Regions from separate parts of the Homo sapiens genome. Here region 2 is reported to be linked to region 1. The links are microRNA targets in miRTarBase. Many come from high-throughput screens and were not tested one by one. Region 1 holds a microRNA gene; the other region holds the end of a gene's coding sequence.

Region 1 (15,394 bases):
TACATGATGAGAAGAAAAAAACCTATCTGTAGAACCCAAAAATGAAGCAGATGATGTAATTAATAGACAAGAACATTAAATCTGTTTTTATAACTATATTTTAATATGTTCAAGAGGATATGGAAACATTGAGAAGTTATAAAACAGACCTAATTAAACTTCCACAGATGGAGAATATAATGTCCAGGATGAAAATTACACTGGATAGAATTAATAGCAAATTAGACACTGCAGAAGAAGTAGTTATTTGGATAGCAATAGGAACTATTCAAAATGAAACAAGAAAACCCAAAAAAACTATTTTTAAAAATGAACAGAGCTACAGTGATCTTTGGGACAACTTTAAGTGGCCTGATATATATGTAATGAAAATGCCAGAAAAGGAATAGGGGTTTGTGCACAATATTTAAAGAAATAATGGCTGAAAACTTTCAGAATTTGGTGAAAACCGTAAACTCACACATCCAAGAATCTCAATGAACCTCAAGCACAAGAAACATGAAGAAAACATCAAGGCACATAATGAGATTTCTGAAAACAAGTGATAAAATCTTAACTACGTGGTAGAGGAGAGGCATATTGAATGCAACGAACAAAGATAAGAATGACAGCATTGTTCTCATCAGAAATAATGCAAGCCAGAAGACACTGGAACAAGTTTAATGCAGTGAAAGAAAAAGACACTTTTGATCTAGAATTCCATGGCCAATGAAAATATGTTTCAAAACCACAGGCAAAATTAAGACTTTTTCAGACGTTGAAAAGGTGAATAATTTATCAACAGCAGACCTGCACTACCAGAAATGTTAAAGAAGTCTTACAGGCATAAAGCAAATTATACCAAATGGAAATCTGGATCAACACAAAGGAGCGCCAGAAATGGTAAACATGCTGGCAAAAATAAAATATTTTGTCCAGGCGTGGGGCTCACACCTGTAATCTCAGCACTTTGGGAGGCCGAGGCGGGTGGATCACCTGAGGTCAGGAGTTCAAGACCAGCCTGGCCAACATAGCAAAACCCCATCACTACTAAAAATACAAGAATTAGCTGGGCATGGTTGTGCGCAACTGTAGTCTTAGCTACTTAGGAAGCTGAGGCAGGAGAATCGCTTGAACCCGGGAGGTGGAGGTTTCGGTGAGCCAAGATCACACCGCTGTACTCCAGCCTGCCTGAAATTGTGAGACTTCATCTCAAAAACTAAATAAAATAAAATAAAATCTTTTTTCTCTCATTTTTACATCTCTTTAAGAGATAACTGACTAAAGAAAAAATTCACTATATTGTAGGGCTTAGAACATATATAGAAATAAAATGAAGAATAACAATAGCACAAAGCCTGGGAGGGAGAAATGGAAGTGTACTGTTATGTATCTATAAGGCTGCAAGATTCTAATACTATACATAATTTTTTACACTGTACATAAATTAATATTATTTTAAAATGGAATATGATAAGTTAAAGATGTATATGTAAGTCCTAAAGCAAACAATGAAAAAACATATCAAAGAGTTGTAGCTAATAAGACAACAAAGAGTATAAATTTGAATCATAAAATAGTCCATCAATCCAAAAGAAGGCAAAAAAATAAATAAATGGAGAACAAAAAAATGAATAGGACAGAAAGAAAACAAAGAGCAAGATGACAGATCAAAATTCAAATGTGTAAATAATCACAGTAAATGTAAATGGTCTAAATATCTCAATTAAAAGACAGAGATTGTCTGACCAAATAAAAAAATAAGATCCAACTATGTGCTACCTACAAAAAAAATGCTTAAATGTAAAAAGAGAAATAGGTTAAATGTAAAAGGATACAAAAAGAAACACATTAACACTAATCGAAAGAAAGCTGGAATGCCTATGTTAATAACAAAAAGGCATATTAAATGCAAATGAACAAAGATAAGAATGACAGCATTGTTCTCATCAGAAATAATGCAAGCCAGAAGACACTGGAACAACTTTAATGTAGTAAAAGAAAAGAAATTTCAGAGCAAAGAATATAATCAAGGATAAAGAAAGCAATTTCAGGCCAGGCACAGTGGCTCATGCCTGTAATCCCAGCACTTTGGGAGGCTGAGGCAGGCAGATCATGAGGTCAGGAGATCAAGACCATCCTGGCTAACATGGTGAAACCCCATCTCTACTAAAAATACAAAAAAATTAGCTGGGCGTGGTGGCGGGCACCTATAGTCCCAGCTACTCGGGAGGCTGAGGCCGGAAAATGGCATGAACCCGGGAGGCAGAGGTTGCAGTGAGCTGAGATCGTGCCACTGCACTCCAGCCTGGGCAACAGAGAGAGACTCTGCCTCAGAAAAAAAAAAAAAAAAAAAAAAGAAAGCAATTTCATAATGGTAAAAGGCTTATTTCAAGAAGAGGACATAAGAATTATCAATGTTTATTCACCATATAACAGAGGTCCAGAAACACATGAAGCAAAAATGAATAGAACTGAAAGGAGAAATGGCAAATCCATAGTTATAGTTGGAGACTTTAACAGTCCTCTCTCAGTAATTGATAAAACAGCTAGACACAAAATTGTAAGGATACAGTGGGCTTGAACAACACTATCAACCAACTTAACCTAGTTGACATTTGTAGAACAGTGCCCCCAATGACAGCAAAATACACATTATTTTTCAGTACATTTACCAAAATAAAACATATTATGGGCCATAAAACAAGTCCAATAAACTTAATAGGACTCAAGTAATACAGAGTATGGTTTCTGACTATGATGGAATTAAATTAGAAATCAATATCAGAAACAGACTATGAAAATTCCCAAATATTTTGAAACTAAAAATTATACACTCCCAGGCCAGGTGTGGCAGCTCATGCCTATAATCCCAGCACTTTGGGAGGCCAAGGCTGGTGTATCACCTGAGCCCAGGAGTTTGAGACCAGCCTGGGTAACATGACAAAACCCCATGTCTACAAAAACTACAAAAATTAGCCAGGCATGGTGGCACACACCTGTAGTCCCAGCTACTTCAGGGGCTGAGGTGGAAGGATTGCTTGAGCCTGGCAGGTAGAAGTTGTGGTGAGTGGAGATCGTGCCACTGCACTCCAATGTGGGAAACAGACTCAGACTCGTCAAAAAAAGAAAGAAAAGAAAAGAAAAAGAAAGAAAAGAAGAAAGAAAGAAGGAAGGAAAGAAAGAAAGAAGGAAAGAAAGAAAGAGAGAGAGGGAGAGAGAGAAAGAAAGAAAGAAAGAAAGAAAGAAAGAAAGAAAGAAAGAAAGAAAGAAAGAAAGAGAAAGAAAGAAGGAGGGAGGGGAGGGGAGGGAAGAGAAGGTAAGGGAAGGGAATTCTAAATAATCCAAATGTCAAAGAAAAATTCAAAACGGGAATTAGCAAGTATCTTAAAGTGAATGAACCTGAAAGCACACTACATCTACATTTGTATAATGGAGCTAAAGCAGTGCTTAGACGGAAATTATAGCAATAAAATGACTACATTAGAAAAGATGAAAGGTCATCAGTGACCTCAGCTTCTACCTTAAGAAAAAGAAGTTGAGGAGGTGTTGGTCAAATGATTCAAAATTTCAGTTAGGAGGAATAGGTTCTAGAGATCTATTGTATAACATGGTAACTATAGTTAATAACAATGTATTGTACTTTTGAAAATTGCTAAGAAAGTGTTCTCACCACAAAAAAAGATAAGTAGGTAAAGTAATGCATATATTGATTAGCTTGATTTAGGCATTCCATAATTATATGTATATCAAAACAACATGTTGTACATGATAAATATATACAATTTTATATGTCAAATAAATAAAACATTTAAAAAAGAAACTAGAAAAAGGGAGCAAATAAAAGTCAAAGTCAGGAGAAGAAAGGAAATAATAAAGATCAGAGTGGAAATCATTGAGATAGAAAACAGAAAAACAATAGAGAAAATCAATAAAACCAAAAGCTGGTTCTTTCCCAAAATTGATAAAAATTATAAACCTCTATCCAGATGGATCAAGAAAAAAAGAGAAAACACATAATTAATATTAAGAATGAGAAATGGTTCATCACCACAGTCTACAGATATTCAAAGATAATAATGGAATAGTATGCATAACTTTATACCAATAAATTCAACATTAGATTAAATAAATCCTGTAAAAGAAACAATCACTAAAACTCACTCAAGAAGAAATAGATATGCTGAATGTTCCTATATCTAGGAAATAAGTTGAATTTGGAGTTCTTTCCAACAAAGAAAACTCCAGGGGTGGGAGGAGTTGGGGAAGTAAAGAGGGATCACCAAGGGCTGGATGAACCCTGCAGGTAGCTGTGTTTGGTCAACGGTTTATCATCTTGACTGTGGTCATGGTTTCACAGATGTGCATATATATGTCAAGAGTCATCAAATTGTACACTGTAAACCTGTGCACTTTACTGTAGGTCAGTGGCATTTCAATAAACCCAAGAAAAATAGTGACACCCCCGACAAAGACTGGCGGGCTCAAGGCAACTCAGCTTGTATGTGTGCCCTCCCAGCACAACTTTGCTCCCCGGGCAGCCTCAGAACCACGGAAAGATACTCAGAAAGCCAGTCACAGTGACCCCACAGCCCTGTGACAGATGTGCTGTCCCATGGGGCTTATCTAGTCACCCAGGAAGGAGCCATCATCTGTCCTCCCTCTGATGATTCTCAACTGCAAATATGTTGCCATGGCTTGAGTGCTTGTGACCCTCCAAAATTCATGTTGAAACTTCATCCCCAGTGCAACAGGATGAAGAGCTGATGCCTTCAGCAGCTGAGGAGGCCATGAGTGCTCCACCCTCATGGGTAGGATTTGTGCCTTATAAAAGGGCATGAGGGGGCGAGTTTGCCCTTCCCATCCTTTCTGCTGTTCATCCCTTCTGTCGTGTGAGGACATGGTGTCCCTCCCCTCCAGAGCACCCACGCAAGGCACCAACTTGGAAGCAGAGACTGAGACCTCACAAGCTATTGAACCTGCCAGCACCTTGATCTTAGACTTCCAGCCTCCAGATCCGAAGAAATAAATTTCTCGTGGTTCCTTATAAATTATCCATCTCAGAGGTTTTGTTACAGCAGCACAAATGGCCTGAGACCTGCATATACAATTAGATTCCATGAGCCTCGAGTGGGCACCCCCAGACCCTGGCCTGGCAGGTTACCTGTTCAGCGGGCGCTATGGACTCCTCTGGGGAAGGACAGAGAGGCTAAGATGCAAATTCTACTCTAGGCTCCTGCTCCCAGGGAGTAGAGGCCAGGCACCACCCATAGCTGCAGATTCAGGACCTGTCTCCCCTTCCCCCAGCCTGTCTCTCTTCCTGAGGTCTCTCGCCTAAGACAGCTGCTGTCAGCCTTGGGCATTTATCAGGCTCGCCTGGGAACTTGGTGAAGACCCAGATCCCTGCCACCCATCCTACTCACTGAGCCTGGGCCTCTGCAGTGAGTCAGAACCCCTGCCTTCACATACTGGTTTAGCTACTTTAACAGAGACCAAAATAACACTGGCTTTAAAAGGCAGAAGGTTCCTTTCTCTTGTGGAAAAGACAAGCTGTTCAGCTGTCCAAGTGGGTAGGGCAGCGTGTACATGAGCTGGTCCCACGTAGGGTGATCAGCAGTCCCAGTTTGCCCCAGACTCAGAAGATTCCAAGAACGTTTCGGTGCCAAATCAGGAAACACGCAGGCACACCTGGACAGGTGGGTCGGCCTCATGCAGGGATGCTTTGCCCTGCCCCGGCGTGGCCCTCCAGCAGCACAGTCGGCACGTCTCAGCACCACAGTGCCCCAGTTCCACCCAGAAGTTGCATCTGCCTCTGTTCACACTCCCCTGTGTAGAGGTGGCATGTGTCTCCACCAGCAGCCCAGGAGCCCCACGTGCCCAGCTTCCCTTCAGGAATTCCATGGCTGAAGGAATGGACCCCGAGGAGCCATCCTCCACCTGGGTCAGGGGCAGAGGCTGGAGAGGCCGGAGTGGAGGGGCTGGGGTGCCAGGAAGCACAGGTCTAGTCTCAGCAAAGTAGGGGCCTGTCCTCCTGGTGTCCCCAGGGACCAAGTAGGGGCCTGTTGTAAGACCACACCTCATTGCCACCTGAGGCCTTCCATTGGTCCTCCGAGGCCCTGGCTGAAATTCGGCCTCTTCAAGGATCCCCCACTGGCCCTCCCACCACATCAGCTCCAGTGACAGCTTGAGCTCTGCCCTGCTGAGCACTCAGGAAGTGTGCTGCATCATGTCAGGGGAACCTCCAGCGAGCTCCACGTCATCCTACAGAAGGAAGAAACAGGTCCTCCGAGGGGATAAGGGACTTGCCAAGGTCACTTGCTTGTAGGCATAGAGCTGGGGTTTGAATGCACGACAGACTCTCGGTCCCCTGTGCCAGAGGCAGGGAGGGTGGAGGAAGGTGCCTCTGTCTCTTCAATCCCTCAACCCTCCCACCTTGCCCATTCTCCTGGCCAGGTCCCCAGGGCCAGCCTACAGGCTCCAGCGGGAATGAGTGGGAGCCAGCCAAGGGAGCAGTGTTGTGGTGAGTGGGGGGAGTGGGAGCAGGCTGGAGCCCCTGAAAGTGGGGCCCCTGGGAGCCAAGCCCTTTCCCCAGCCTGGCTCCTTGAGGCAGTGCAGCTCAAACCCGAGGGAGGGGGTCTGGCCCAGTGGCCCAGGGGAGGTCACTGCAACGAGAAAGCTGGTGGCAGAGGCTGGGGGCTTCCCTGGAGACCAAAGTGCCAGAGGCAGAGTTGAGGGAGGGTCTTGGGTAAGGACCAGGCCACTGCCCCTCCACCAACCATCCTCATTTCTGCTTCTCTGAGATTAGAAGGAAAAGGCTGGCTTGCTTTCAAGGGAGAAACCACGCTGAGGCCTGGGGGAAAAGGACAAGCACCCCAGGGACACAGCGATGCTTTGGAACATGTTTATTGTCATCAGTCTAAATTGTACAGACGCACACCGGACAGAATGCCTCCAAGCCGCAGAACAGGGACACAGCCGCCATCTCCCACCTGAGCCTCAGCCCCTCTCACGGGGCTGCTGAGGGCTGAGGGCCCATGCAGAGGGCACGGGGGAACGTGCTTGTAAAATGAAATGGCTACAGGGGGCTGCGGTGGTCAGCAGGCAGCAGCTGGGGAAGACACTCCAACCCCTCCGATGCCACAGACCCACTGGGCGCTCCCACGGCCCCAAGCTCTGAAGCCAGATCCTGAGAGGTGGCCACAATGGCATTTGCTGAGCAACAGAGGAGGCACTGGCCAGTGGTGGATGCTCTCCCGGGAACTCCACTCCCCCCACCTGGGTGGCCAGGGGACCTTGCTGTCCTGCTGCTGGCCCTCTTCTGGAACAGCCCTCCACAGTCACCTCCTGTCTCCTCACATCAACCCCCTATGTGTGCAGGTCGGGCTCAGAGAGGGCAGGTGACTGGCCCAAGGCCACCCTAGCAGGCCTCAAACCCAGGCCTGTCTGACCCATCTCCCAGGACTCCCCGCAGCTCTCTAAACACTGGGTGAGGAGGTGGGGACTGGAGGGGGACCCTCCACCCCAGAGGACACAGCAGGCCAGGCAGCACCAGGCAGAAGACCCCGGCCCCTGGCTGGAGGTGGGGACAGATTCGACCCTTTGCTGAGTCCCTCCCAGGGCCGCCCGGGGCTTCACACGCAGATTGACGCGCACACCTCTCCTGTGGGCGCTAGCTACCACGAGGTTCCAGGGAGGCTCCGGCGAAGGCACCTGTCATCATGGGCGCCGCTTCTCCTCTACCTGGGTGTAGTCTGCAAACTTCCTCCCCACCCCCAGTTCCTGTGCCTCGAGGTCCTTCACGAGTTTAGCGCGCACTCGTAGGAGCCGCGCAGCGCTCCCTAAGGCCTCAGTGAGTGGAGACGCTCCGGGGAGCCGGCAGCGGGAACCATCGGCCGCCCAGCAGGGTGCGGCTGCCGGCAGCCTGATGGGCAGCTCCCAGGAAGCCCAGGGCAAGGAGCGCTCCTCAACCCTACGGGCCCACCGCCAGTTCCTCGCTGGGAATTCCACGGAGTTTCGAGGTGCGGGCCCTCGGGGTGCAAGAGGGCGGCGGCGGCGTCTCCAGGCCGGCAGCGCGCCAGGAGCGTGGGCAACCCAGCGCGCCCCCACCCAGCGGTTCCCACAGCACAGCCCGGCCACGCCCGGCCACCTCCCAGCAGCACTTGGCTCTCCGGCCGAGGGTCTTCCCTGGCAGCAGGTGGAGCCAGCCAGGCCCTGGGGACTGCGGGGCGCGGCGCATGGGGCGGCCGACCTGGAGCGCGGAGCCGGTCCGTGGGCTCCCCTGGATTGGTCGCCGGCGCACCCCTGACTGTGACTCTGACTCCAGGCCGCGCGTGGGACGCTCCGTCGCTGTCGCCGCGCCCGCCGGGTCTAGTGGTCCTAAACATTTCACAATTGCGCTACAGAACTGTTGAACTGTTAAGAACCACTGGACCCAGCGCGCGAGTCCCCAACACCGTCGGTTCGCCGAGCTGCGGAGAGAGGAGCCCCCGACGCCCTTGGGACCGCCCGCGTCGCCTGCGGATCCCGGGGACCGGCCCCTGCGCCCAGATCCCCGCTGGTCGCGCACCCCCTGCCCTGCTGCAGCCACCCGGCCCCGACGCCGTACCGGACGCCTTAGACGCCCTCGCCTGGCGCTGGGGGATCCCAGCCGCCAAGCCCAGCCCCGCCGCGTCCTCGCTGGCCCCGGCGTCCCCTCGTCCCGCGGGCCCCGCGTGGCAGGGCGGCTGAGCTCCGAGCGGCGGTGGCCAGCGCGGCGGCGCCTTTTATGCGGCGCAGCCGCCCTTCCCGGCGCCGGAATGTGCCCGCGCCGCGCTGGCCCGACCGGTTTTTCCGGGCGGGGCGGCTCCCGGGCCCATAGGTCCCGCGACTGATCCTCCACGGCCCGGGGACCTGCTCCGCGCGCCCGCGCGGGGGTGGCCCTGACTCAGCGGCCGCCCCGCCCCATCCGGCGCCCCAGCCTCCAGCGCCTGGCCTGGGCGCACCTGGCCTCCCGGGTTCTGGGTCCCCGCCGGGCCACGCCCGAACCGTCTCGTCTGGGCCGGGGGTGCTCGGGCGCACGGAGGGCCCGGGGCTCCACCTTGGCCGGGTCGAGGCCCAGGGTGGCCGGAACAGGTGAGGACCAGCGCCCGACAGGAGCCCAGGGCCGCGCTAGCTCTCCGGTGGGTGTGGGGGCTGGGCTGGACACACCCACCCCAGCCCCTCTCACTTCAAAGGGAACTTCGTGGGAGGGGGAAGGGGAGGGGTAAAGAGAAAGTGAAACTGGAGGGAGGGAGGTTTCTGCTTCTCAGACCCTGAACCCCCACCCCGCAGCCCACAGGGGTAGCCCCGTACCTGCCTCCTCATTTCCCACGCGGGGGGAGGGACGCCCTACCCCCTCACGCAGCAAGGGCCTGAGCCTCGCTCCCCCCACTCACAGCCCAGCCCCGAACGTCCTGGCGCAGCTGGCCCTGCCGGTCCTACCCACTTAGTCACCTGGAGGTGTCCAGGCCTGACCAGTGGCGCCTCCCAGGGACTCTGCTTCAGCAGAACATGGCAGCTGAGGGGAGGGCTCAGGCTCTAGGAAATACCCTAGAGCCCCCTTCAGCACTTGCCCCAAGTCTGGAGCCATTAGTGTGTCTGTATGGGGTTGGGCAGCAGGGTGGTGACCATTCATTCCAGTGCAGGGCGGTGACACGCCATCCCACCACCCGCCCAGCCAGCCAGGAGCCAAGTGCTCAGGAGCCAAGGTGAGCCCCAGACCAGAACACAGCCACCAGATCTGAGGGACCCCCCAGACATTTCCACATGGGCCGCGTGTGGCTCAACCACCGCAGCCACCCTGGAAAGGGAATCAGAAAGGTTTTGTTATTTTCATTTTGCAGTTGGGGAAACTGAGGCTCAGGGAGGGACAGTGACTTCTGGGGATTGCACAGCTCTTGGTGGTAGAGAAGGGATGACAGGCCTTGCCATCGCTGCATCTGTGGGTCTCAGTGCCTGGGTGTGGAGTCCGAGGGGCTGCGGCATGGGGGTGGGGATGGAAGTGGGCATAGGGGAGCTTGAGATCAAGAACAGGAGCTTGGGAGCTCCTCCCCCAACACAACTGCATGGGCAAGAAGAACCCACCTCTCTTCTTTTCTTTTTTTTTTTCTTTTTTTTTGAGACCTAGTCTTGCTGTGTTGCCCAGGCTGGAGTGCAGTGGTGCGATCTTGGCTCGCTGCAACCTCCATCTTCCCAGTTCAAGCGATTCTCCCACCTCAGCCTCCCAAGTAGCTGGGACCACAGACACAAACCACCACACCTGGCTAATGTTTTTATTTATTTTTTAAGAGACAGAGTTTCGCCATGTTGGCTGTTCTCAAACTCCTAGGCTCAAGCTATCCACCCGCCTCGGCCTCCCAAAGTGCTGGGATTGCAGGTGTGAGCCACCAAGCCTGGCCACCACTCCTTAATTCTAAGTTCTGGTCTAGCCCAGTCCTGGGCAGACTCTTCCCGACGCACAGCCACTTGGATGGGCTCCCCTCGCCCAGGTGGCTCCCGTGTCCAGCATCCAAGGGAACTGACGAGAGAGGACGGGGAGAAGGTGACAAGTACAAGCACCTGCAGTTCCCACCAGCAGCAGGAAATATTGAGGTGTGACCAGAAGGGGAACTTCCTAGCATACACGAGAAATCTGGTTACCTCCAGCTGGGGAAGGGCGGTCCTGGAGGGCCCTCAGCTGAGGAGTCTGATTTTAGGATAGAAAATGCTGGTGAAAAAGACAGTAGTCGTGATGGAGAGGAGATGTTCCCCAGAGATAGCCCTGGGATCCAGGTGATTCGAGATGGGCTATAGGAACCAAGGCCTCCCCCAGCGTGAAATTACCAGGTGTGAGCGGCGCCACCCCACTGTGGGGAGGCGGGTCCCACGGGCACTGGGCACCTGGCTGTGCCTCATTCCTGAGTCTCCCACAGCCTCACACCACAGCAAGAGACAAGGCGGCCCTGATTCACAGCCCAGCTCTGCCCTGTGCCAACGCAGAGCCCTGGGCGCAGGACGGGGCCACTCTGTGCCTTAGCTTCCTCAGCCATGAAGTAGGATAGACGGGGACCCGGTGCCCTCCTACAGGCACAGTGGGGACGAAACACACCAACGCGGCGCAGGACACGAACGCTCCAAGCCTGTCTGTCCCGGCTGTTCCCACTGCACGCCAGAGAGCCAGAGGCCTTGGGGCCAGGTCACTGCCCAGCTCAGAGCCCAGGGAGCCCCGAGCAGTGGCCCTGCACCTCCTGCCACTTCTGGGTGATTCTAGAGGAGTCCCCTTACCCAGGGCCCCTCTGGCCTCTCCCCAAGGGGCACAAAACGGCCCCCGAGAAAGCTCCCAGACTCAAGCCTATGACTCTTCACAGCCTCCTGAGACACTGGCCCAGTCCCGGGGCTCCCTGTGGTAGGGCCCTACATCCCACGAGGGTTTGGAGGGGACTGACAATGGGGGTCTGGCTGCCCAGCCTTGTGAGGAGCTCTCCCCATCTGCCCAGCCCGTGGCCCCCAAGCCGTCTCTGCCGAACTCCATCAGTGACCCAGTTGGAGAAAGGCCAGCTTGACAAATGCTCTCTGCGGGACAAGCAGGATGAGTGGGCGTTTCTACACTACAGGACACTCACCCCCGGCATCAGTCGGTGTGTCTACACTGGCAGGTTGGCACCTGCTCTGGGAGGGTGCTGCCATGTGGGCTAACGTGAGCCACCTGCAGCTTTCACAACCCGGAGCAGCACTGAGTGGGGTGGCGTGAGCAACAGGCTCTGCCCAGCCCCTCAGGAGCTGAGGGAAGCAGGTGGGCACTGCCGTGTGCAGGAGCAACCGGGGAGACCAGGTGGGCTCAGCCCAGGGATGCCGGAGGTAGTCCCACCCCTTCTCACCTGCACCAGGCATTTGTCCAGATGCCCCACCGCCTCTCCCAAGGCCCTCCAAGGGTCTCGGCCATCCGGGGACAGCAGGGGCTCCTGGCTCTGGGGCCCGGTGCCACCCTCCCTCCACCTGCAGCCCCTCATGGGCCTCACCAGGGTGAGGAGCAAAGGCTTCCCCGGCCCTGCCACGCTCGCATGGCGTCACCTTGTTGTGCAAGGCCCAGGCACACCTGTGTCGGGGTGAGGACAGCAAGGATGCCAGCGGCAGTACCAGCCAGGCTTGGGAACCAGGCTGAGGAGCCTGGGGTATGCCCAGGTGCCAAGGGCCAGCTCTGGGGTCATGCTTTTGCCCTCCTGGGGCTCCAGTCCAGAGGCCAGCCAAACAGAGGGACAAAAGGAACCGTCACCTGGGCAGGTAGAGAGGCCTGGAGGGAGGCAGCCCCCATGCTCCTCACACCCAGCAAGAAGGGGTCAGGGGCTGGGGGCAGCAGCAGGGAGTCCCTGGCCATCCCAGGCCAGTGCATGCACACATGATGGGGGCCAGGGGTCCACACCCCCGATTTCAGCCCCAGCTGAAAGAAGGCACGAGGCTGCCCTTGGCCTTGGAGCACCACCCCCACCGGGCAGCAGCAGGGCCCGCCCCACCCGCCCACCTGCCCAGGCTGTGCAACCAGGCAGGCACAGCTCACCTCTTCCCTTACAGGGTGGCCTGGCTCACGGTGGAGGCTGCATCAGGAGCTTCAGGCAGAGCAGGGGCTGGAATGGTCCCCAGGGGCTCACCACCAGAGTGTGAAGCCCCCTTGACACTCACAGGCTTCCGCAGCCCTATGGAGCCCTGGTGTGGCCCTGGCCTGAGAGGGGGGCCGGGTGCAGCGATACTGGGGTGACAGAAAACCAGACAGCAACTGGGACGGGACTGTGAGGACTAAAGAGTTAAGCAGGGGCAGCATGCTCATCCAGGGGTTGGAGGGCTGCCTGGGGGAGGGGACTTCAAGCTCCAGAATGAAGGCGCAGGAGGTAAGGAGATGGGCAGAGGGTGTCTGGAGGAGGGACCAGCCTGGGCAAAGGCAGGGTGGCAGGAAGGGGGAGTGGCAGCTGGGAAAGGACCACTTGGCCAAGTCACGTCCATGCACCCCACCCTGCCCAGCTCACACGCACAGCTGCCCCCGGAAGGATGGGCCAAGTGACCCCCGCAGAGACCCCACAGAGCCTGGGCCTGACTCCCCACACACATCCACAGTCCCGGACCCAGACAGAGCCTCTCAGAGCCAGGCTGTACAGACCTGGTGAGGGGATGTCAGAGACTTTATTGCCGTCCTGCCCAACAAAGGCCTTCAGGCTTTACATGAGAGCAGGCTGGGAAGCAGCCCCAGCAGTGGGGTCATGCCTGAGACCCCTCCAGCAGGTCATGGGAGGAAGGAATGGCTTATACTGCAGCAGGACGCCTTCAGGTTAGACACCAGGCAGCACTTCCTGAAAACATGAGGGCTCCTGAGAAGGACACCCAGGTAGAGTGCGAAGGCAGGGCAGAGAGACAAGCCCAGGCACCCCGTCTGTACGGCACAGCCCAAGAGCCTGAGCAAACCCAGCTTGAGACTATGGGAGGGCCACACAACCAAGTGGGAATGGGGGTGTCAGCTGGGAACTGGCCTGGGAGACAAGCGGAAGCACCCAGCCTAGGGGGTCCCGGTGGGGCAGGGCGCAGGGGCAGGGGTGGGTAAGGGGATGCTGAGCCCTGGCTGGGCCCTCAGTGCTCAAGTCTGGTCAGTTCCTTCAGGAAGCCCTCCCTGACTGCTCCTTTCTCCTTCTCCTCACCTCTAAACTGTGTTCCACCCTGGACATCCCCAGGAGGGGCTCTGCAGACCCTAAACTGGCTGGGACCCATCTCAGCCTCCTCCGGTTCTGTTCCCCTTGATTACGCCCCCCCGAGCCAGGATCCAGCCCTGCACTAGAAGCTCACTGGGGGGTGTCAGCCCCGCCTGGGGTGGGGACTTACTGGGCATGGGGCCTGGGCACCAACCGCACCCTCCAGGCTCTGTAGAAAGGCCACCACTGCCAGGTTCCCGGCTGCCTCTGCCTATGGGGAAGCAGTGGGGAGGGGCTGCCTTGGGGCCACTGACTAGCAGCCTGGCCCAAGGATCCCCATCCCCAGGATGCCCTCCCCTGTCCCCAGCCCACACACACAGGGCCCCAGCAGCTCCTCCACTCTCGTCACCCCCACCACTCAGAGCCCCGGGAAGGGGACCCAGTCTGTGCGGGTCCTGCATGGGGAGGGCCAGGCATTTGGGGGAGGGGCAGAGCGGGGAGGGGCAGAGCAGTGAGCTGGTGAATTGTCCAGGTGTCCTTCCTGGAGGTGGCAGCCTTTGGAGAGGGTGCAGGGGGTGGGGGCACTCACGACGTGCAGGGCGCTGTGCCCGTCATAGCCCGGCTGCCCCAGGTCAGCCCCTGCCTGCCACCACACCTGCAGGCCTTCGAGGTCGGCCCTGTATGCCAGCCTGGGGGTGGGGGCAGAGGAGGAGTTGTTGGGGCCTGCTGGGCACCTGTCCATCTGCCCACGTGCCTGTCCCCCAGGTGGCCTGGACGCTCTTACAAAGCCAGCCCCAAACAGCTGACCCAGCAGCGACCTGGTCCTGGGGCAGGAGTCACTGGGGGCCATCGGGCAGCCTGGAGCCTGGTTTCACCCAGTGGGTGGGACTGCGACTCAAGTCGGGTACACATGCGCAAACATACATGAACACACATGCACACACAGCAGCATACACAGCAGCATACATGTACACACACAGGAGCACACAAGCACACACCTACACATGCACACACACACGAGCATATGTGCACACACACATGAGCACATGCGCCTTTGCACACACATATGCACGCCCACCTGCCGAGCAGCCCACGCCAGTTTCGTGTTACACAACACACCGCTCTTCCCGGGGCGGGGTCCGCAAAGGTGGAAGGAAAGTTTGAGGCAGCCCAGTGGTTCAGAGAGGGGGACACAGGAGGCAACCCAGGATAACGGTTGGCCCTGGACCCCGGCAGACTGCATGGGGGGGTCCTGGCTGGGACAGGGGTCTGGGCCCACCTGCCCTGGAGTGGGGAGCACCTGCCAGGCCCTCACCAGCTCCTCCTCACCCTGCCACCCTCCTGGGAAGAACTCACTCGCCACCTGGGGAGGCCAGGAGCAGGCCAGGTGGGGACCCGGCAGGGAAGGCTCCACCCACCCATGGTGTGCAGGGGCTGGGGGAAGTGGCCTGGTGAGGAAGGGGCTGCCCCCTCCTCTGGAGGGCCCTTAGGGACTCTGCGCCTACCCAGGAAACAGCAGCAGCCCTGCAGTGGCACTGGGTAATCTCTGCAGCGAATCTGCTGGATGGCCTCACTGGCCCCTCCTGGACCTGCTCCAAGAGGCCAAGCCCCACACACACACCGGCCCCTAGGAAGGCCTAGCCGAGGGGCTCAAGTCCAGCCAGCAGCTCAGGCTGGCCAGGCCACTTCCAAGCAGAGTCCTGGACCAGGGTTCTGGTCCCAGCTCCCACAGGACCTGACTACTGCCT
Region 2 (12,795 bases), not on the chromosome of region 1:
CAGGTTGGCCACAGACAGCTTAGAAGCCATTCGGTTGTCTCCAAAAGGCCTTTGGAAAGACTTGAATATGTATTTAATTCCCCCCACCCCCTGCCAATGGTGGCAAATTTTGTGAATTGTTTTTCTCTCTTCCCCTTATCTGGCTCTAAAACCTTCTGCTGCCCAACCTGACTTTGTAGTTCTGATTTTTACTTGTTTATTATTGGTTTTGTTCTTGCCTAGGGTTTTTAAAATATCTGTTTTTAATGTTTTGTTTCTCCCTCCAGGCCAGTATAAAGGGACTTGAAGTATTTTTTAATAATCCGCCCCCCAATGAACTTCAGAAGTGCCATTCTGATTTAAGGGTTTTTTTAAAAAATTACTTTATTTGTTCATTCCCAGCACTGATTATCTTCATAATCCATTAGGACAGAATGGTTTTCAGTCGTTCATATCCTGTAATTAGGTAATTGAATCATTAGCTCTCAGCAGTTGCCCTGAGGCAAGTGGAAAGGCAGGCAGTGCTCTGGGGTCACCGAGAAAGTCTAAAAACAGGAGGCTGAAGGTACTGTGATGGCTTTAAAAATGGCCACCTTATTAAATAGGGATTGTATCAATATTGAAATGAAGACAATCTTTCCAACTTTGGGTGTTTCACTTGCTGTTTTAATTGTTTGTTTTTAACACTTTGTAGGTTTGTGTTTTCATAATCTTTAATTTGAAACTCATGTGTCCTCATGGATCGTGGATGCCTTCATTTCTTGAGCTCTCAATGCAGACATTTAAATGGCTGCAATCAGTAGAGTGACCCGCGGATGGCATAAATGCACCTCCTTTTCTTGGCCTTGGATCTATGGGTCTGGGATTGTGGTCATCTCCTCAATCCTCAAAAAGAGGCTGAATCAATGTGGCCGTGGGTGGGAACTTACATACAGAACCCAATGAAGAACTTGACTGTCTAAACAAGGGGGCCTCGCATGGAGCTGTAAAGCATCTAACAAATATGAAAAATGTGAAGTTCCAAGGTCCAAGAAGAAAAATAATGATGTTTCTGAAAGTGATGATAAATAATTACTTTTAAAGTGCTGCATATTTATACAATTGAGAGATTATTTTTGTAAATGCAATGTCTGTGAGCTGGGATACATGGGCAGTGCTTCAGACATTTAAAAATCACTTTTTACTCCTAGGGAGATGCCAATAAACAGAACTCTTTTGTTTCTTCTGAGTCCTTATACATTTGTTTTATTTTTTCAAGTTTGTGTTTCTTCTTGAAACGATTCTTATTTATTACAAAATCTTGGTATCTTGAACACAATTATGTTCTCTATAGATGAAGGAAACTCAACACTAATTCTGGTTTCTGGAACCTTCATGCTCTCCACTTTTGCCCCCCTCCCTCCCTTTTGCCCATGACTTTAACATAAGTAGTGATGTTTTAAAATGAGGATATCATTTACAGTGTTTAAAATGATATTTTATACCAGGCCAGCTCAAAAGACAATAAAATTTTACTTTTCTTTCACTATTGTCAATTTATTTATATAGTTCTATTTATTTTTTAATCCATATGTATTTGTATGCCTGTGCATAGAAAAACTTACTCACTTGAAAATTTTCAACCTGGAAAGACCATTATAAACATCTGGACTAGGAAGGTCTTGAAATTAGAAAGACATACCCATATTTGGCAATCGAAAAAGAAACATTTCAAGCTTATCCCATATCGCCTTCTCCGGGCAGTCTGCACAGAGCAGTTGACAACTGAAAACATAAAACCTAAACTTTCAGACGCAATTTTTAGGCACTAGAATTTTCTGTTTGAGGCCTTTTTGCCACTCAGGGAAATGGCCGATGAGGAACTGGATGACTCCTCATGGTTAGCTCCCCACACAATCAACTCAGTGGTTGCTAAAGTTTTAGTGTGTAAGTTAGTTACATAGTGATATTTAAAACCTCACTTAGTGTGAAAACTCTCCTGGTGGGAGGGCTCCCTCATGACTTTGAGAGAGAAAACGCAGAGACCTAAGACTTGGAGCTACTTTCGTTTTCCCTGTCCCAGCTTGATTTCTTTCATATCTTACTGGCGACCGTGGACAGCTAACTTCGATTTTGAGGGGGAGGGACAGAGACAGAGAAACAGAGAGAGATATGATCGCGATTCAATCTTTGCAGAAGAAATAACCCGTGCACAAGGGGCCACACCATCCCCCACCTTACACTTCGGGAAGGGTCGTTACCGTTTTTGTGGTTTTTCTCAAAAGATGTGTTTTCATCAGAAACGGGCACATTTTTCCTTTCTCCTAATCGCCAACTTCCCCTCCATTTTTTGTGAGTCCCACACTCCGGAGCTTCACTCCATTTCCCCTGTCTATTTCTCGGGTTTCCCATCGTGGGTAGGGGAGATTGCCTCGAGGCTTTCCTTTCATCTCTAGTTTGCATGTCACTTCCCCCCCTCCCCCCGCCTTGGAGAAATGGTAGGTTTGCTGAAGATTAAAACTGTGCTCAAACGCTCTCTGGAGGAATTTGGATTGAGGGCTAAATCAATAACAGAAGAAGGCTTTGTTATTCATATGCATTCCCTTTATATTCCAAATTGCAGAGGGAGGAGAGGAACTGGTAAGTGGCCCAGGCACTGGGAGGGAGGCCCTCGGGGAACCCGGAAGGCTAAGGGGGCTTGGAGAGAGGCCTTTCCTTCGGTTGGAGACAGGCGGCAGGAGAGCTCCTCAGAAACCCGGCAGGTTTTTAGCGCCGCGGGTGGGGGAACGAGGTCCCCGTGTCGCGTGATTCAAGAGGCGAAGGAAGCATTGGAGCCGGGACTCACGGTCAGACAAAGGGGCGACTGCAGTGCTTCCCCGCCTCTGGCAGCCCCCTGGGTCCCTCTGGCTCCGCTGTCAGGGGCGGCCTTGCCGCCAAGATCTCCGGCTTTCGGAGGCGCTAGGCTGCGTCTGAAAGCGGGCTGGCGACCCCAGGGAGGCCGCACCGCCCTTCACTGTTGATCTTGACCGTGCGGCTGCGCCCCGATAGGCATGGAGCGCGCTCGCCATCTCCTGGGCATTGGGCGGCATTGGCAGAGCTCTCTATTCGCTCCTCAGCCAAATCCTGTTCCATTCTCTTAATCACCAGCCAAGCCACTCTCCCGCCACTACTTTCCACCCCGATCCTCCCTCGATCAGGTTCCCCAGCTCGCATAAGACTTTGCCTGCCAGACCTCGAAAGTCATAAACCCGGGGGATGAAGTGGGAAGACTGTCCAAGGAGCAATGGAGGGAACCTAGTTGTTCTTGTTTTTCCTGTTTTTCACTGAGTTCTTTTATGCCTTTAGTCCTGAGGCGCAAACAGCTGTTGTAGGGCTGCCTAAAGGTCCGAAAGAGACACCCCTCGGCTTGGAAATAACGAGGAATCGTCGTGCACTGAAACGTGAGGAGAGACTGCAGGGACCCCTGGAGCTGGAGCTTTCGGGAGTAACGAAGCTGCAGCTCCTCGAAAATAGGATGGGTTCCCCAAAATAAGAGCTCTTAGGGATCTGAGGCTTGTATTCCCTTGAGTATCTAGGAACTGGGATTGCAGTTTGTGCTTGCCCCCACCTCCCAAGAGAGGACGAGAGCGAGTGAGTCTCTATGCCTGGGCTCCTAAGGAAACTCTCTGGCAGAGCCAGAGGAGCCCCAGACATCCCCACCCCCCCGTCCTCACTCCCTCTCTCCCCCCCACCAGAGCAGGAGGAAGAGGCCGATTGCGTTCCCCAGAGCCACCCAATTGGTCGCCATAACTCACACAATAAAGTGGCAGCGCGGCGGTCAGTCTTGCCCTCCGGCGGCGCCTGTGTGGTCTCAGTGCAGGAGCCCGCGATCTAACCAATTCCAGCTTGGCTCGGAGACCGAGGGTCCTGCTGCAGGCTGAGACTGGCGCCGGTCACCGGGTCTCCCAGGGTCTTGGGATCAGAGGCAGGAGGGGAGGACCCCTAGTCCTCTGGCCGGACTAGGCAAGAGGGCCAGCGACGGGGTCTGAGCACACCGCTCCCGGCTAAGAACTGCTGCCTTTCCCACTTCCCTGTTTGTCAGACCCGTGAACTCCCTATCCCCGGCACCCCTGGGGGCGCTGAGGCAAGGAACTCTGCTAGCCAGCTGCCTCCGAACGCCCGCTGTTCCCCGGCCAGGTGGTTCTGGCTCTTCTGCCTTTCCACACCCAGTCGGGGGAGTTCGTCCTGCTTTGCCCTCCACTTGGTGGATGGGGACACCTCGGAGTTCTGGTTTGCAGTGTGTAGTCCTGGAGAGGACTCCTGAAGATAAAAGGAATGTAGCCTTTGGCCACGATTGGTGGATCGAGCTGATGGGTTCCCTGGCGGACATTCTCCATGGACCTGTATGGCAATTTCCCTATGATCAGAGTTCTTAGCCATGGGGACACAAACCAGAAATAGTGTGGCCTCCTTCCTGGATCCCAAAATTGGGTAGTTTGTGATGCCCTTTTTGTGTCTGCGGCCTGGGACTGAGGGCTCAAGTAGCGAATGGGTCTTTGCTGCCAGATCCTCAGGCAGAGGTCTCTGGAGAAACCCTCTCTGTGGGAGTGATTGGGGTAAAAGTGACATTGCTCAGGCCAAGGGACAGAGCTCCTGGTGCCGCCGGACCGCGCCCTCTCCGGATAAGTCGAGAGGCGCCGGTTAATGGAAAATGCCTCCGCTGCAACTTAAAGCCGGTAGAAGCAAGCCGGGCCCAGAAAGCCTGCGGAAAACGAATCGCAAAGCCAATCACGACCAAGAAGAGTCCCAGGGGACACTTGGGCAGAGTCACCCTCTTGCCCGATGTCCCCAGCTGCTGAAGCCGGGCCTGGAAACCCGCAGACAGTTAGTCTTCGCTCAACCTGATTTGGCTCTGCTGGCAGCCTCGTCCTTCGCCATCGAACATTGCGGGTGTTATCATAATACTCTGAAGGGGGGGAAAACGGGTCGGGGGGATGTAGGCGGTGCTGAAATGACCGGCTTTGAAGAACCTGCAGGCAAAGTTTCGTCCAATCGTCTGAGCCTGTCCTCTTATTCCCGGTTGTAACTAAATACTGTTGCGAGCGCAGCCGAAGCCCTTTGTTGGAGATGTGTGAGCGCAGTCTCTACAGAGCGGGCTATGTGGGCTCGCTTCTGAATCTGCAGTCGCCAGACTCTTTCTACTTCTCCAACCTGAGGCCGAATGGCGGCCAGTTGGCCGCGCTTCCCCCTATCTCCTACCCGCGCGGCGCGCTGCCCTGGGCCGCCACGCCCGCCTCCTGCGCCCCCGCGCAGCCTGCGGGCGCCACTGCCTTCGGCGGCTTCTCGCAGCCCTACCTGGCTGGCTCCGGGCCTCTCGGCCTGCAGCCCCCAACAGCCAAAGACGGACCCGAAGAGCAGGCTAAGTTCTATGCGCCCGAAGCGGCCGCTGGGCCAGAGGAGCGCGGTCGTACCCGGCCGTCCTTCGCCCCCGAGTCTAGCCTGGCTCCTGCAGTGGCTGCTCTCAAAGCGGCCAAGTATGACTACGCTGGTGTGGGTCGTGCCACGCCGGGCTCCACGACCCTGCTCCAGGGGGCTCCCTGCGCCCCTGGCTTCAAGGACGACACCAAGGGCCCGCTCAACTTGAACATGACAGTGCAGGCGGCGGGCGTTGCCTCTTGCCTGCGACCTTCACTGCCCGACGGTAAACGGTGCCCATGCTCCCCGGGCCGGTTTGGGCCGGGATGGGAGGTGGGGTTCAAGGGAGAGTGTAAGGGGAGGTGAACCGCCTGGGGGCGGGCAATAGACAGAGTACGGGCTGGGTTGACGTGGGTTGGGGCTGTGTTGCAGGCCTGCCGTGGGGGGCGGCCCCGGGGAGGGCCCGCAAGAAGCGGAAACCCTACACGAAGCAGCAGATTGCGGAGTTGGAGAACGAATTCCTCGTCAACGAATTCATCAACAGGCAGAAACGCAAGGAATTGTCCAATAGGCTGAACCTCAGCGACCAGCAAGTCAAAATCTGGTTCCAGAACAGGCGTATGAAGAAGAAGCGCGTGGTGCTTCGGGAGCAGGCGCTGGCGCTCTACTAGCCGCGCGCGTGGCCAGGGCCGGGTTGGATCTGCCCTTTTGGACAGAGGCCTTGTTTGGGGAGGGGGATCTGGGGCTAAGGCTAAGGCTTTTCCTTCGGTTCCTTCTCTGCTGGCCCCAGAAGCCACCAAGAGATTTACAGACCAGGCCAGTTGGGCCTCCTTGCTTTCCTCAGTCCCTGAGAAGCCCGTGAGAAACGTGCGGAAGTACCAGTGCAACTCTGGCTGGCCTTAAGGCTTCCACGTTGGGGGACTGAGGCCAACTCTCCTTGCTCCTGGCTGGGGCATTTGCACCCACCGCTCATTCTTGCTCCCCGGTACCTGGATTTTTCTGTTTCCACCCAATTCGTTCTCCCTTTCCCCCTCTCTCCAGCCCCTTCAGCGTATAGCAGTCGCCTAGTTAGGGCTCAGAGTGGAAGGCCTCCTGAGGGAATGGAAAGGACTGTGGGTACAATTAGGTCTCTGCAGCAGAAGCCCTTTGTGGCAAGGCCAGGATCTTCACTCTGGAGAAAGGAAAGGGCACCATCCACCCTCCACCCTCCTGTCTGCCCTGGCTGATTTGAGAGAACAAAAGCCACACTAGATCTTCAGACTTTGGGAGGAAAAGGGAGGGAAGGGGAGGGGCTGGGTAGTGGGGTAAACTTGGAGATATCTCGAAATGAGAAATGCGAAATAGGCTGGCCTATTTCCAGCTGGGTAGAATATGTGGAACCTTCATTTCCTGAGATGGGATGAGAGAGACTGGGACTCCAGACAAGTGCCATCTCCAGACAAGACTGGCAAACATTGCCCTACTCCCACCTTCTCAAACATGCCTAGGCCAGGCCTATGAACCCTGTAACTGGATCCCCAGAGGCTAGCTCTGGTGAAAGGAGCTGTTGGTCTGCTTTGAAGCTCTGTTGCACAGGGAGAGGGAAAAATATCCAGGGGAGGAGAAGGGAGTGAATAAGAGGAGGAGGGGTGCTGCACTCCAACTGTAAATATGGCTTTCCAGTTGAGGTGAGTAAAGGTGTTGGTGCATCTTTCTTTCTTCAATTACCTTAATGGAACCCCATAAGGATAGGCAAAAATCCTTCTCAAGAGTCAAGGGGAGGGGAAGGAAGTCTCTTAGATTCTCTGCCCCGCTAGCTGCTCTTGACAAAGCAAAGAGGACCAGAAGTTCCTCTCACCGTCTCTACCATCTGCCAACTCTACCAGAGGCCCAGCTACTGTGCCCCTTCTGAGGCATGTCTGGCCTGTCCCAGTGGAGACTTTAAGGCCCTGGGCCCTGCCAGGCTTGCCTCATGGAGGCAGGGGTTCCCAAATGCCAGGTGGAGTTGTTCTGGGTGTACTGGAGTGTCCCGCCTTAATCTCAGTGAACCAAGCCTCCCCCTGCGAGCTCATTCCACTATCCCTGCCTCTTCTCCCCTCTCCTTCTGACATGTAGCACTCCTCCTTCGCAATTCCTAGCATGATGCACAACAACTCAAGGATTCAGGATTCCTTCCCAAAGTCCAGTGATTTCTTTTCAGTGCAGGACCTGGCCCTAAATCTGGAGTGGGCCCCTCACAGAGAGCCCTGAGCCTTAGCCCAACTGACTTCAGTTGATATTTAAACTAATTTCATTTTCTAGGCTATCTAATAGTTATCATGCATGTTTTGTTTTGATTTTGTCAAAAACAGTAGCTTGTATATATCAGACACAATATATACAAATGTTTTGAGTGAAAATAAATATCCAGGTCTGAGCCAAGCTGTCAAGGAGCTGAAGTCAATTTTTCAAAATGTTTTGGATTCCACCTTAATGTTTTTCAGGCCACCAAATTCGTTTTTCTTTTCTGGTTATTGTTTCACCGCGAGTGTTGACTGTTCGTTAAATGAGAAAATGGCTTCCGAGGCAGTCAGGAAATGGTGTGTAAAAGCCTACAAACCAAATATGTTTGGAATATCCAAAAGGGAAGGACCATGGCAGATCTGAGTGTGTCTCACACATTAAGGGGACTCTCAGCTTGTTGCAAGCTGGGACTTCCACACTTAGCCTAAATTCTCAAATTTTAAAGCTTGCTGGTATTCGGGGTCTGTAAAGATTTGAGGTTCTTCAGATGTCAAAACAAAACGTCTGTCTCCACCGAATTTTGGTCTGACTTCTCTGGAACCGGCTATGTCCTGCTAAATCCTTGATACCAGCAGGTTTACCAGGCGCCCAGCAGACTCCCTTGGGAAATGGGGCCTCAAAACTCCCTAGTCCATCTGAACCTCTAGCTTAGTCCAGGAAATTCAGGGCCTGCTTGCTACTCATTTTCTTGCAAAAACAAGCTCCTAGCTGGTGGAGGTGGAAACTAGCTTTTAGCTAGAGGAAGAATTAGCAAAACCACTAAATCACTAACACTGAATATTCAACATTTCAACTCCCTTTCCCAGAAGCAAATTTGGTGTATAATTGAAATTTTTAATTGTTCTTTAATTGTATACACACACACAACTATATATACCTATATGTATATATATTCAATAGGAGAGAAAGAAGCAAGAGCTGCCAAGGCCCTATGGCTCAAAAGGATTCTCCACCTGGCTGGGCACATAGAGGCGATGGTACCCAGAGCAGGATCTCCAAGTCTGAGTCTGCATTCAGAGGTTTGCCTCCTCAAAAACAACTGAACAAAGGCTGAAGCCGCACTGAGCGCTCGGAAGGCTGGGGAAAGGAGGAGGAAAGCATATGAACTCAGATCCAGGCCTTAAGACAGAAAACACGGAGGCCGTTTCTTTCCAAAATATATCATTAAATCATCGTGTTCTTTCCCTTTAGCCTGGGATGAGTGGGGGGAGGGGATATTCATGGAGATCACTCCTCAAAGAAAATTAAATTATTCTAAATATAAAAGCGTATCTCTTGGTTCAGCAGTCTTTTCCAAATCTATCCCGTTTGCTATTTCACACAAATACAAAGACTCTGGTGTCTCCTTCCATAGCCCGGGTTCCCGCAGAGATTTGGAACCACTAGGAAATTTGTTAAAAAAAAAAAAAAAAAAAAAAAGCCGAAGAGAAAGGACGCTAAAATCTGAGTGCTCAACATTCCCTTCAGAAAGACAAATGTGTCCTCTGAAATGCTGCAGTCCAAGCGGGCCTCTTGACCAAGAAAACAGTTTTAAAACGAGAAAAAAACAGCTTCATCTGGCATTCAATCAGTTGGGAACTCAGAGGGCGGCGGGGAAGGGGGGACGCTTTTAAGGCCTGGGGGTTCTCCCCCAGGGAGGCGGGCTGAGGAGGCTTCCGGGATGCCGGCGGGTGGAAGAGAAATCTGGAACCGTTGTAAATATTCATGTGGGGGGATGCCCCTTCACCCTTCACCCGCCTCTCCCAGCTGCATTCCCCCCTCAGTGATAGTGGGGGAGGGCAAGGCGACTGCCCCACTGTCCTTAGACAAAGGTGATCTCCCCATATTTTTGTTCTCCAGTCGCTTGACTTAAGAAGTCCATTCCGAAGGCTCTGTAGGGAAGGAACTGGCTCTGGGTGTTTTCCCTGCATTTCTCTTCTTTCGTTTCTTAAAAGAGCATAAATAATTAAAGTTTGGCAGGGAGGAAAAGCTTTCTTGCAGAACTGTAGTGGCAATAAATGAAATGACTCAGAATCCCTTCCCCAGTCAGCTTTTACGAGAGCTGCCAGACAGTGTCTGTTCACGTTCTCCAGATACCAGGGGCGCCCTGACAAAGTTAAGGTCAAGTTAGTGTCTTATCTTGGGTGACTCAAAATCACCGCATCGCGTCCTGGCGCTGTGCGGAAAGCTCTTTCTCGCGGAGCGGCTGGCTGCGCCCCGAAGGCCTGGTGCGCTCCCTGCGTTTCGGGTGGGGCCGCGCAGGCAAGGACAAGGCCACAGAGTCGGGGTCTTCACGGTAGGTTCTCGAGCGGGACGCGCGGGTCCGGAGGCTGCGGTTTTCCCTGGGTTTGGGGAATGGGGGTAGGAACTAGGAGGGAGCTGGGGCCAAAGAGCCAAGCGGGCTGGGACTGGAATGAAAGCGCTCTGGGTTGTGGAGTGGGTCGGGGGGCAAGGGTCCGCGCTAAGGAGCCGAAAGGGGCCGGCCGCCCCCTTCCCCTATGCACCGGCGCGCCACTGCAGATGGCTCACCCTCCCCCGCCAAATCGCTGCTCCCGCCGGAGCTGCCGTCGCCATGTCGTTGAACTTGAATGGTTCGTCCTCCCCTTTTCCCTCTTCGGCGGTCAGCAGGCTCCATACTGGGGGCGCCGGGCTGCCTGCACCCCACCCCGTGCCGCCAGTAGAGAGAAGGTGCGAGAATTTTGCGAATCCCCAGACACATAAAGACCCGGGTTGAAGTCCTCGCAGCTGCCCTGGGTCCTGAGCTACCGCAGGGCCAGTGTGCAGCGTCCAGGGAGCCATTTTAGGAGAGAGATCCAGGGGCGTCGACCACGAGCCCGAAAGGGAGAGGCTTGGGCCTGGGATGGAGATGGGGAGGCAGATAAGTGTGCTGGGGGTCTGGGTTGAGGAGAAGAATGTCAGCTGGAATCTGGGCGGGGGTGCCAGCTGCGGGGAGGGAGCACACAAGATGGGCAGTTCTAGTTGGGGGAGGCTCGATGCCCTCCAGTCGCCACAGACCTATTTGCGCAGTGTTGGGGGAGGGAAGAAGACATGGGAAGGGGCGGAGGAAGGAGAGAGGAAGGGAGAAAGGGAGGGAGGAGAAAAAGAGGAAGGGGGGGTACATCAGCCAGAAAATAGATATTAGCTCAGACCACCCGCCTTTTCTCTGTCTGTCCGCACGGTGGGCAGAGCGCACAGCACCGGCACTGCAGCAGCCCGGGCCAGGGAGGGAACCAGCATCACAGCCAGCGCCGCCTGCCCTGGGTATAGGACTGAGGCCCAGGCCCCAGCGCTGGGATTGCCTGGGCGGAGGAATCTTGGGGAAAGGGGCAGCCTCCTGCCCTCGGTTCTGGGATTTGGGTTTGGGAAGAGACGGTTTACCTTTGAAAAGCGTCTGCTCACTCGGAGGTGGGATCCCAGGCCTTGCCTGGACCCATGGGCTAGGAGAGGGTCGCGGCAGGCTGGGAGGAGAGTGAGGCCTTGGGGGAGTGGATGGGGTGCCCCACGAAGAGTCTGCCTCAGAGCCAGGTGACACAGAGGGGCTCCAGGAGGGAGTCAGGCTCCGCTGAGAGCCCTTAGAGAGACAACCTATCTTGGGGGAGGGGCTGAAGTGACCATGCAGACCCAAGGGTACCAGAAGAGCCTCGGGGAAACGCGGCGTGGATTCGCAGGCCTTGGCGGGGCTCCGAAGCAGTGAAGGGTCTAGGTATAAGGCGGACACCCAGGCTAGGCCTGAAAGCAGAGGGGTGAGGAGGACGAAGGTGCGAGTGTGTGGGGGTTGTCTCTTGTGGGGAGCCAGCGGGAAGCCAAGCACCCTAAGAGTAGGACTCCAGATCCTTTTGTTCACCAGACTCCCCAGATTCTAGGGAGGCTGGGGACCACGGGCTGAGCCCCCTCCTGGCTTCAGTGCTGAAGGAGAAGGCAGAGAGGCAACGGGGAGAGAGACAGAGACAGTGACACACAGCTTAGAGGAAAGGAGGGGAGAGGATGAGAGGACAGAGAGAGAGAGGAGAAGGGAGACAGGAAAGCAAGAGGAAGGAAGAAGGAAAGCGGAAAAGAAGAGGAAGGAGAGAAGTGAAGACAGGAGAGAGAAGGGAGAAGACTGAAGAGAAACGAGGCAAGGAGAAAGAGAGACAAGAACAGAGAGGGAAACCAGAGAGAAGGGAAGAGAGCCGGGTGGGCACGAAGGCCCCGGCCTGGGTGAGTGCCTAGGTGGTGAATGGCCTGGGTTTTTCCGAGGCCAGCACTCGCACCCTTGGGGTCAGAACCGGAAAGAGCCAAGTCACTCCACTCTGAACGCGCTGGGCAGAAAAATATGTAAATCAGGGCTCCCTGCGCCCTGGAGAGTGGCGAAATTACTCCCGCCCGGTGAACAAGAAGCAACAAGCTCCCAGGCGGGTGAGCTGCAGAGGGTGGCAGAGTCGCGGGGGAGGGAGCGGCTGCAGTAAGGGGGGTGGGGTTCGGAACCTCACACCCTCACACCTAGTTCCTAGCTTCTAGGGAGCCTGGAGCCGGGGCTTCCCCCCCTCTGCTCGCTGCTTCTCTCCCTTCCCCCTTCCTCCCCCTCTTCCCCCTCCTTCCTCCTCCCCGCCGGCCTCGGTCCGCGTACTTAAAGCGGCGCGGGAGGGCGGACGCGGGCGGGCGGCCCGTTCGGGCGGTGGCAGATGCGCCCAGCGGTGACAGCGGCCAGCGGCGCGCAGGTGACCGGCCTGAGGCGCAGCCTGGTCAGGGAGCGCCCGGGGAGAGCTGGCGGCAGAGGGCAGCCGATCCGCCCCCAGCGCGCGCGTCTCGGCGCCAGGAGCCGTCCCGGGGCGTGTTGGCGAGCGTTGATATAGATATAAGGACATTTCTCTTCATGGCGTCACGTGACATAATTACCACCAGAATCAATCAAGATGAATTGCACGTCAGCGCCCGGTGGGGATTTTTGCTTAGTTGATCCTGGCCCAAGCCTCTTGTGCAATCGATGGCTCAGGTTGGCTGCGCGGGGAGCGGCCAGAGGCTCGCTGGCGCGCACGCCGCGGAGTCATGAACGACTTTGACGAGTGCGGCCAGAGCGCAGCCAGCATGTACCTGCCGGGCTGCGCCTACTATGTGGCCCCGTCTGACTTCGCTAGCAAGCCTTCGTTCCTTTCCCAACCGTCGTCCTGCCAGATGACTTTCCCCTACTCTTCCAACCTGGCTCCGCACGTCCAGCCCGTGCGC

Evidence for each region. Region 1 holds the annotated microRNA hsa-miR-203a-5p (AGUGGUUCUUAACAGUUCAACAGUU, at 8,382-8,406, opposite strand). A microRNA usually pairs through its seed, bases 2 to 8, with sites in the 3' UTR of a target mRNA and lowers its output. Matches are read on the target gene's strand: a 7mer-m8 pairs with bases 2 to 8, a 7mer-A1 pairs with bases 2 to 7 and ends in A, and an 8mer does both.
Region 2: the mRNA of HOXD12 is a reported target of hsa-miR-203a-5p. The part of its 3' UTR that is shown has no 7-base or 8-base seed match.

Annotation. Positions count from the first base shown.
Region 1 is chr14:104,110,443-104,125,836 of GRCh38, reverse strand. It overlaps MIR203A (microRNA 203a), which reads right to left and starts at 8,432; the gene lies at 8,323-8,432. ASPG (asparaginase) reads right to left here. Exons shown (of 16, transcript NM_001080464.3): 14 at 14,236-14,335; 15 at 13,837-13,917; 16 at 10,255-13,313. The coding sequence ends at 13,293. It overlaps MIR203B (microRNA 203b), which reads left to right and starts at 8,334; the gene lies at 8,334-8,419.
Region 2 is chr2:176,094,738-176,107,532 of GRCh38, forward strand. HOXD12 (homeobox D12) reads left to right here and starts at 5,058. Exons shown (of 2, transcript NM_021193.4): 1 at 5,058-5,638; 2 at 5,785-7,752. The coding sequence starts at 5,065. The coding sequence ends at 6,023. It overlaps HOXD13 (homeobox D13), which reads left to right. Exons shown (of 2, transcript NM_000523.4): 2 at 1-1,207. It overlaps HOXD11 (homeobox D11), which reads left to right and starts at 12,543. Exons shown (of 2, transcript NM_021192.3): 1 at 12,543-12,795. The coding sequence starts at 12,619. RefSeq lists enhancers at 2,205-2,788, 2,789-3,371, 4,913-5,645, 9,413-10,399.